Linked DNA regions of Homo sapiens. The protein of the gene in region 1 interacts with the protein of each later gene in a pairwise test. Each region holds a gene or a part of one and is shown on either strand. Other genes may lie near its edges.

Region 1 (4,771 bases):
CCCCCAAACCAGGCTTGCTTATCAATTTCACCTCTTCTCATTGTTGGCTAAAAGAAAAAAAAAATCTCTCTCCTTTAAGTCATACACACACACAGAAGCTGGCCATTGGAGGACAAGCTGACTTTTCCATCACTGTTGGGCCTACATTTTCCTGCTCATTTGAGATAAAGTCTTGTTTTTTCTTGTAAATAATATTTTTATTGTTATAAATGTTACATACAGTCATTGTAGGTCTTTTGGAAGAGAGGAAAATGCAAAGATCAAAGTTAAAATTGCCCTCAAATCCCCCTGCCCATTTTAGGCATAGCCTCTCTTTTGGACATTCAGACCCCGCTGGCCCACCTGGGCTGCCCATCGGGAGGGTTCATCAGGGTGTGTTGGGGGTGTGGGGAGGAGGTGGTGGGGAACCAGGAGGCATTCAAAGTGGGTTGGCATTGAATGTGAAAGCTTCCTCATCCTGACGAGGGTTGCCTGGGCTCATGGATGCAGAAATCATGAGCATGAGGGGGTAACAGACATTGCTTGGTGTTTCCACCTGCATCCAAGCAGCCGAGGAAACACACCCTGGAGGGGTGAGACTCAGAGCTCCCAGTTTGCACTGGGCTTTTCCTGCAAAGTCAAAAGTAACCTGGGTCCGTGCAGGGTCTGTGCTCAGTTCTACAATAAGGTGCCCCTTAGTCTCTATGTACACTGGCAGTCTCTGACATAAAATGTGGCTTATAACATTTGTCCCATCTACTTCCCAGGACTTTGTTGGGGATTAGGGGATGTCAGCACATAGGGCTTTAGGATGGAGTGTTTGCCTTTCAGTTCTCAGCCCCTTGCAGGGATGACCTCATTTCATCTTCCCTGCAACCCTAGGAGGTAGAACTATTACTATGCTCATTTTACAGATGAGAAGACTGGGGCTTTGGGAAGTAAGTAACTTGGCCAAGGCCACGCAGCTGCCAAGTAGAGAAGCCAGGACTCGTAGGTCAGGGGGCCCCAGAGCCTGGACCTCTAACACTGTACTATTCCACTTCGCTTGGGTGAGGTGGTAATGTTGTCACTTGCTAATTTGTGGTTCTGACCCTCCCTTCAATGGCATTTAGTCAGGAGAGGTTTGCTTAGGGTCACTCACTTGTTGGTTTATTCACTCACACCTACACTCATTCATTCATCTGCCTCAAGGACAACTTCTTAGGCTCCTCTGGGAGGCCAAGGAGACAGTGAGGGACCAGATGGGCAGGATCCCTGCCCTCTAAAGTCTCCTGTCCAACAGTCTCCATGACACCAGAAGTGAATAAAGGTGGATGGAATGAAGTTTGGGAATTCCTAACTGGAAAATGTTGTGCTATGTATTATTAAGTTCAAGCAAAATTAGTATCTATAATAAGAAAGAGCATTTCTTAGAATTTCTCCTCCCTTTTTTGTGTGTCCTGTAATATTCCTTCATTCCATTAATGCTTATGAAAGAGTAAGTGAACCAAGTGGAAAATCATTCATGGGATTCATTTCTCTAGAATATTTTGTTTCATCTCCTGGGCTTTTTGAGGGATGTGTGCCTACTGCATTGATGTCCTGAAGAGAGAGGTGGTATCTTGTAGCTTTTTTTCCCTAATTCCTGATGCAATTCAGTATAAAGAAGAGATCAGGGCAGGAGGTGGTCTGCCTGTTTTGTTTACTTCTTAAACCTCAGGCTCATTATCTGACTGAATGAAGGAATGAATGAATATACCATCCAAGCCAAGAGAAGACATTAGCTGCTCTGCAGAGGGGAGAGACAGATATCTCCTGGGGATCTTACAGGTTTCAATTCATTTTTTGTAGAGTTCACACAGTCAGATTCAACCCCATGGATGTTTTTGAGCTGGTGCCTCATTCTGGGGACTCATGAAATGACTAGGTCCAGGCCTTTGATCTGGAGCATGTGGCAGCCTCGTTGGGAACGCAGGTGTCTGGACCTCTCTGCAGGGGACACACATTGAAGAGGGCCTGGAGTCTTGAAGAAGCACTCCAGTGTGTCAGCATGGTCAGACTGTGGGGTTAGGTGGCCGTGGTAGATGGGAGATGAATAGTTGCAGGCAGAGCCAACTGGTGTAGCGTCTTAGAACCATCTAAGGAATCTGGCCTTGACCCTGAAGGTCGTGGGGTGAAAAGTCCAGGTTTTCCTGAGATTCCCGTGTCCCTTCCGTTGTATATATCACCCACTGTCAGCCCAGCATAGCCTTGTGATGTATAACTATGAAATCATAGCTCCTTTCGACAGAGTATTTCTGAGCAGCTATTTCCTGGTGCAGTCCAGGAAGTTATCTCTGACCTGAATGCTGGCAGGGTAGCTTCCATCTTGAAGTGGGGCCTCTGGCCACCTTCTGTCTCCAAGCCTCAGCTGCCCTACCTTAGGAGCAGACTGGAAGCCGCATTTAACCTTCAGAACTCTCGCCCTGGCTTATCCAGAGATGAACCAAGAAGGGCAGCTTCTTCATCCTCCTTTCCCCTCCCCCCACCTTGTTTTGAATGCCAGAGCAGGAGGGGCTTTGCAGCTAATGAGCCAAACCTTTCATTCCACTGATGAGCAAACATAGGCTTGCCTGAAGCTGATGGGACCTGCCCAAGATTCTCCAGATAATTGTGGTGGGGCTGGGATTCTAGGTCAGAGGCCAGGGCGGGCCTGCACATAGTTGGGCTGGGTCTTGCCTGCCTTTGAGAGGCTGATGGCGCAGTTGGCAGGGTGTGGCATCATAGGATACATGTGTGTTTGTGTGTCTGTGTAACGGAAGTGCCCCAGGTCACTCTGATAGCATCACAACGTTCAGGTGCTGAGTGAGACCTCACAGGTTATCTCAGCTGAGCTCCCAGGCAGTGGGAAATTGCCAGATGACAGCTTAATTCTGAATCACACATACCTGAGGCCTCCCATCTTGAAGAGATGCAGTGTGTGTGCACACAGCTTCCACTGGGTGATGTTCCTTTGACTCTCATGTCAATATCTTTATTGGCACTTGGGCTGGAGTCACAGCAGGGATTGTGGCTGTCACATGCGTGTACCAGCACATATGTGCATGCATGTGTATGCACACACACGCTCACACACATACACATGGAGCATCTCCCTGGTTGTCACTTGGGTTCCTCCAGGCTCACAGGGCCAGAGGGGCATTTCCTTGCCTCCATGCAGGGCTGAACTTCCTCTGTGGGCAACTTCCTGGTCCTTTAGAATTTCCAGAAGAGGAAACCCCCCACTTCCCTGAGCCCAGAGGCGAGCCCGGATGGCTTTCTTTGCTTCCTTTGGTCTGGGAAGTCTGATCATTCCAGTCCAGCCCAGCCAATGGGTTTCACAGTGAGGAAGGGGAAGCATAAGAGAAGGTGCCAGCCTCCTGGGGCACTCATTTCTCCCCTGCAACTCCAAGCCCAGCTAGTGCTCCCTGTAGGTTTCGACAGACAAAAGCTGGCACCTAAAGGCTCCTGGACCCGATGAGGGTGGGGCCCGAGCCTCCTGTTCAGCCTCGTCACAGCTTGGGCTTCACCCTCTGCTGACCGGTGAGGCCATGAGCTCCAGGACGAAAAGGCCTCCACCTGTCCCTGGTGGCATTTCCAGAACCAGCAGCACAGGTCAGCACAGAGCTGGCACTCAGGATGGATTTGTATGGGGAGCGCTGCTTCCCGGCAGTCTGTTGTTTCATGGGAGGTGGAGGGAGGTAAGGAACCAGGTAGAAGAAGGAAGGCATGGAAATCAAAACTAAGGCAGTATGTGGGGAGGAGCAATCAGGGTGACTTCCAAGAGGAGGTGGTGCTGGACCTGAGCCTGGAAGAATTACAGCAGTCAAAGGGGGAGAAAGAGGGGACAGGGTGGAGCAGCATCAAACTGGGATAAGCCTGGCCACTAAGACCCAATGCAGCTGCAATGGCCAGAGGTTTGGATGAGCCCAGGTTATGCAGGATCTTGTAGCCACATGAGCAGGTCTTGGTTCAGTCAGCAGAGCAGGAAGCCTGGGCTTGGGAGGGGAGAGTGGCAGAGCCTCTGTGGTTTAGGCTGAGCCCCTCCTGTGTGAAGGATGTGGTATAAATGTGGGAGGCTGCAGGGCAGGGAGGCTGGCTGTTGAGAGGCTATGCAGAGGCTCAGCCGAGAGACCAGGAGGGTCTGAACTAGGCAGGGGAAGTGGGAGCGGGAGGAGGGGCACGCTCAAGAGACAGCCAAGATGCAGGATTGACAGGACTCAGCAGTCTTAGAAGGCAAAATGCCCAGGGGATGACAGCAGCGCCTCATGTTTACTCAGTACAGGTTTCCCCAGTACTCAAGACAACTCCTTCTAATGGGTAGAGTCAGTCTCCCTGTCTGAAGGGCCGATCCTAGCACACAAGGGGGTAGAGTGCCTTGGCCATGACCAGATTATTTATTCACTTATCATTTCTTACCTTGTTCTAGTAAAGGCTTTGAGTGGCTTCCATGAATACATGAAATGAAGCCACAGAACACCAATTTTCTTTTTTTTAAGGAGGAAGAAAAAGATGGAGAAGCTACCATTGTATACTAACTCTAATAACCACACTTTTTTCCTAAGATAGGCCATACATTCAGCTCTGAACTTGCTAGCGGCAGATAAAAAGGGAAACTTGATCAGTGATATTCGATGCAAACTAGATAACAGTTTAAAAAACAATTCACTTGGGAGAAGTACAACTACTATTAGTATGAAAACTGTGGATGTCTTCAGCAGATGACCCCAAGCAACCTAATGGTCAATGTCCTCAAGAATGTCTGTAGAGTAAATGCAATAATAAATCTTATAAT
Region 2 (4,820 bases), on another chromosome or scaffold:
ACCTCCCGAGTAGCTGGCACTACAGGTGCCCACCACACCAGGCTTGATTGTGACTTGACTGTCACCCAGTGTCACATGAGGGCAAGTGTGGAATTTTCCATTTGTGGGGTCACGTCAGTACTCAAAAAAATTCGAATTTTAGAGCATTTTGGATTTCAGATTAGGAATGTTTAACCTAAGTTTGTAAAGGAAATTTTTTAGCCTTAGAATAGGGATGTTTCAGATTGTTCAAGAGACAAATGAAAGACTAAAACAACCAGAAAACATTGGAATGATAAATCATTAAGTATATTTAAATGTGCGTTGTTTACCTCCTGCCCATACAAAACCACTCATGACATACATACAAATGTAAGGACAAAACTGTAGTCACCTGATTAACAAGAGCCAGAGTTCATTGCATGCTGATCAACGAACCAACACAACTTTTATCATACACTAAAAAAAGGGTAGAACAAAGGCCAACTTAAAGCCTGGAAAGTGATCTAATCTGTTAAATTAGTGTACCGCAGAGTAATTTTGAAAGCCTTCTCGTTTTGTTTTGTTTTTTTTCAGAGACAGAGTCTCGCTCTGTCGCCCAGGCTGGAGTGCAGCGGCGCGATCTCGGCTCATTGCAACCTCCCCCACCCGAGTTCAAGCCATTCTCCTGCCTCAGCCTCCTGAGTAGCTGGGACTACAGGCGCGTGCCGCCACGCCCGGCTAATTTTTTGTATTTTAGTAGGGACGGGGTTTCACCGTGTCGCCCAGGCTGGTCTCGAACTCCTGAACTCAGGCAATCCGCCCACCTCGGCCTCCTAAAGGATAGGATTACAGGCGTGAGCCACCGCGCCCGGCCCCTTCTCTTTTTTAAAACCAATTTCACTAACATTTACTTAAAAATGATTTTCTGCTTGGCAGAAGTGACTTAAGGCATGTGGGGGAGACACTGCGGGTCTGTCTCAGATTCCTTTAGACACCAATGCTCCACAGTTTTACGACTAGGTAATAGTCCGATAATCACCCATGAGTTCCTGGACTCCGGTTTGTTGTGGGATTGGAAATAAACGAGAAAGGCTGCGTTCATCATCATGGCCTTAATTTCTTCTCCCAACTTCCGGTCGTGCAGGTGTCTTGGGCAGGTGATCCCGAGGCCACTCTGCCGTGTTCTGTGAATCTTGGCGGAAGGGAGGCGAGCTGTAAATAAAAGCGTGACCATTAGAATCGCCGCTGTGTAGTATTAACCTGTTGAGCGCGGGGCTTCCCGGGGCTGGAGCTGCACCGCGGGCTCTGCTGTCTGGGACTCTCCTCCAGCGCGGACCCGACAGGACGCCAGGGACCAGGCCGGTCCGGCCGGGACAGCGGGGCCTCGGGCAGCGACGGGGCCGGGCCTCCCCCCAGCACGTCCCCAGCTCGGGCACTGAGGCCTTGCGGAGACCCCAGGACTCGCCGCGGAGGCCACCAGTGCGCGTCTCGCGTGGCGCTACGGCCTCGGGAATTCCGTCACGGCATAGCCGGGTCCAGCGCGGTGTAGACCGGGGCCCCGCGCCTTGCTCGGCCAGAGCGGCTCAGGTACTACTCCAGGTCCGGCCGCACTCGCGGCCACTGCGAACAGCCGGGACACCCAATCCCACTCCGCCCAGGGCCAAGAAGCCCGAGGAGGCCGCAGAACCGCTCCCGCTCCCACTCGCGGCCCCAAGGCCCCACCCCCCCCTCCGCCGCGCGCATGCGCCGCCCCCGAGCAGCCGCATGTGGCGACGGGAGGGGCCTGCCAGCTCCCCTCCTCCCCGGGACCGGCTCACTCCGGCCCCGCCGAGGGGGGAGCTGGTTTCCCCTCGTCCTCGGGGCCCCCTCGTTGCAGAGCGGCGGCCACGGAACCGCAAGGGCCAGAGCGGGCTGCCGGCGCCAGCTACCCCGGAGCCGTGGCTGGCGGCAGAGGCGCGGGGCGTCACTGGAGGCCGGGCGGCTCCTCGGCGCTCCCCCTCGGTGGCCGGGGCGGGATGGTGCGTCCCGCAGGGCGCGCGCGGCTCCCGCGCTTCGGGCGCTCGGCGCGGGCGCGGGCGGGGGCGCGGAGGGCGGGGGAGCGGACCCCGATTCGCAGGACCGGGCCCGGGCTGCGCGGGCAGGGCCGTTGGCGGGGCGAGTGGGGGCGCCGGGCGCCGCGGGGGCCGGGGGCGGGGGGTGGGCGGGGCCGGGCGCCGCCGCGGAGCCTCCCGGGCCGCCGCGATCATGTCGGACCAGGCGCCCAAAGTTCCTGAGGAGATGTTCAGGGAGGTCAAGTATTACGCGGTGGGCGACATCGACCCGCAGGTACCGCGCCCGCCCCTGCCGCGGCCTCCTCCCCCGTCCGCGTCCCCGTCCGTCCCCGTCCCCGTCCCCGTCCCCGCTCCTGCCGCGGGCGCGCGCCGGGCGCAGAGCGTCGGGTCCGCCGAGGCCGCTGGCCTGACTGCGCTGAGGGCAGGGGCGACCGCGGGGTGGGCGCGGGAGGCCCGGGCCCGGGGGAGTGCGGGAGGGAAGGCGGCTGGGGCTCTGTACCTCGGCCCCTAGTGCGCGCCCTGAGCCCCCGGCCTGCGGCCCTGGGGTCGCCGCCCCCGACCCACCGGGCCGCCTCGTTCTCTGCTCCTTTGCTGAGCGGGACGGGCGCGGGGTCGCGTCTCCCCATTCCCCGCGCCGGGCGTCTCGGCTCCCGGGAGAGCAGCTCCGAGGGCGGACGAGGGGCGCCGGGATCCCCAGCCGGGGCAGCTCGCGCGGGGACCCCAGCCTCGCTCGGCCGGCGGGGGTCGTGGCCGTGCACCGGCTTGGCCGCCTCCGCCACCCGGGCAGCTGCCGTCCTGTGCGGGGCTGAGGAGCGCTCCCTTCCAGCCTGTGTCCCTGCACGTGGGGGCTGGCATTCGTCTTCCTTGATTTTCCCACTTGGACGATTAATTTTACGGTACCCTGGTAACACCATCACATTACACATTTAATTTTGTGTAGTTTGGGCTCACGCCAAAGGATATTGTGGGTTTTCCTTAGTATTCCTATAATAATATATCTGTTTGATGTCACACAGTTATCAGTCCGTGGTAGGAATGCATCTTAGTTGAATATCCTCTTCAGGTTAATCTTCAAAATATTTCCTTCTTAAAAGTTTAGCTGTACAGTTGTGTTGCCTTGGGTGTGACATCAGTGGCCCCCACCTTGGAGGATGGGGATCCCCAGTGATCAGAGTTAGGCCTGGAAGGGCGGAGACTCATATTTCGCAGATGAACTTGGATGGTGTAGAAGGAATTGTAGAAGGCTGAGTGATCTTGGCCTTCTTGAGGTTCGTCCTTGTAACAACTTTTTGGACCCTTTTTGCCCTGTAACTTTAGGGTAAAGAGACTTCAAGGCCGGGTTTACCCCTGTAATCCCAGCACTTTGGGAGGCCAAGGCGGGTGGATCACCTGAGGTCATGAGTTCGAGACCAGCCTGGCCAACATGGTGAAGCCTCATCTCTACTAAAAATACAAAAATTAGCCGGGCGTGGTGGCGGGCGCCTGTGGTCTCAGCTACTCGGGAGGCTGAGGCAGGAGAATTGCTGGAACCTGGGAGGTGGAAGTTGCAGTGAGCCGAGATCGCGCCACTGCACTCCAGCCTGGGCAACAACAGCTAGACTCCGTCTCAAAAAAAAAAAAAAAGCCTTCTATCTTTGAATTTACAGAGTAAAACAGTTGCTGAACACGGAGCGATGAAGATGAGTGCCTGTAACAGTGTTAGCTTTTTCCAGTATTGATGATTCCCCCGCCCCTCTTTTTTTTGTTTGTTTTTTTGTTTTTGTTTTTTGCTATCCACCATTTTTCTCTTCCCCCTCCTTCCTAGCCTTCGTGTTTCATTTTAGGACTTTGGCTCTTATAGGGGACTTGAACCAAATGTTACTTAAAACCTGGAACAAGTTGAACTGGAACCATATTTACTCGACTTTGAATCAAATCTAAGTGCTTAAAAATGTCCTTGGCAAACCACTTTCATCTGAAACAGTATATTTTCTGAAAAGTTTTGAGCCTGGACATCTGATTCTCTGACTCTTATGACTGTGGATTATAAGTTCACATGTTGACCATCTAATATGAGGCAGGCATGGACTAGGTGCCAGGTATAATACAGAGGTGAAGAGGACATGGTACCTGCCCTTTAGCGCCCCTCATTGGTGGGGGAGGGAGCACACCTGGACATATCACAGTACAAGGTGTAGCAGATTTCTCCACTGGGGTGCAAAGTAGACACCACTGAAATGTCACTCAGTAGATGTCATTTCAGTTGGGTTTTGAGATAAGCAGAAGTTAAGAACATGAAGGAATATTTTCATGTGGAGCGTATGTGCTGAGGAATGAAGGCATTCATGCGTTTGGGATACATCAGGATGATCACTATATCTGGAACAGAGTGATATGAGATAAATCTATTAAGATACTCAGTAGTGTGGAGATTGAAGAGAAGCTATTGGTTTTGGCATCCTCAAAGTTCGTGAAAACCGAGTAAAGTGTTTTTGGTAGAGTGTTGGTGGAAGGGGCTGGATTGCAGGGAGTTGAAGAGTGAATGGAAACTGAGAACAGAAAGGTTAGACTCTTCAGGAAGTTTGTCCTGAGAAGGAAATAGAGAAGGTGCCTGAGGAAGAGAGGGCTGGGGAGGGATCTGTGTTGCATCACAAGCGCGTGGAAGGATGTGGGTGACTTTACTGTTTACAGGTGGAGGGAACATAGCTATGGACAGGGAAACTCATGAAGAAGGGAGTAGGATCAGAAACAGACTGGAGGATAGGAAAAGGAGGGGTGCCTTTTCTGAAGACCAGTCGAATGGATGCGTGAAGCTAAAAATGCTTAGAG

What was found.
Region 2: the proteins of BTBD16 (region 1) and PAXIP1 interact in a two-hybrid assay, tested with the Homo sapiens proteins (one large-scale study listed by BioGRID).

The regions. Positions count from the first base shown.
Region 1 is NC_000010.11:122,291,499-122,296,269, forward strand, and holds part of BTBD16 (BTB/POZ domain-containing protein 16), read left to right. Parts: intron 1-4,771.
Region 2 is NC_000007.14:155,000,315-155,005,134, reverse strand, and holds the start of PAXIP1 (PAX-interacting protein 1), read left to right. Parts: upstream 1-2,010; 5' UTR 2,011-2,205; coding exon 2,206-2,286; intron 2,287-3,595; exon of another isoform or gene 3,596-4,820.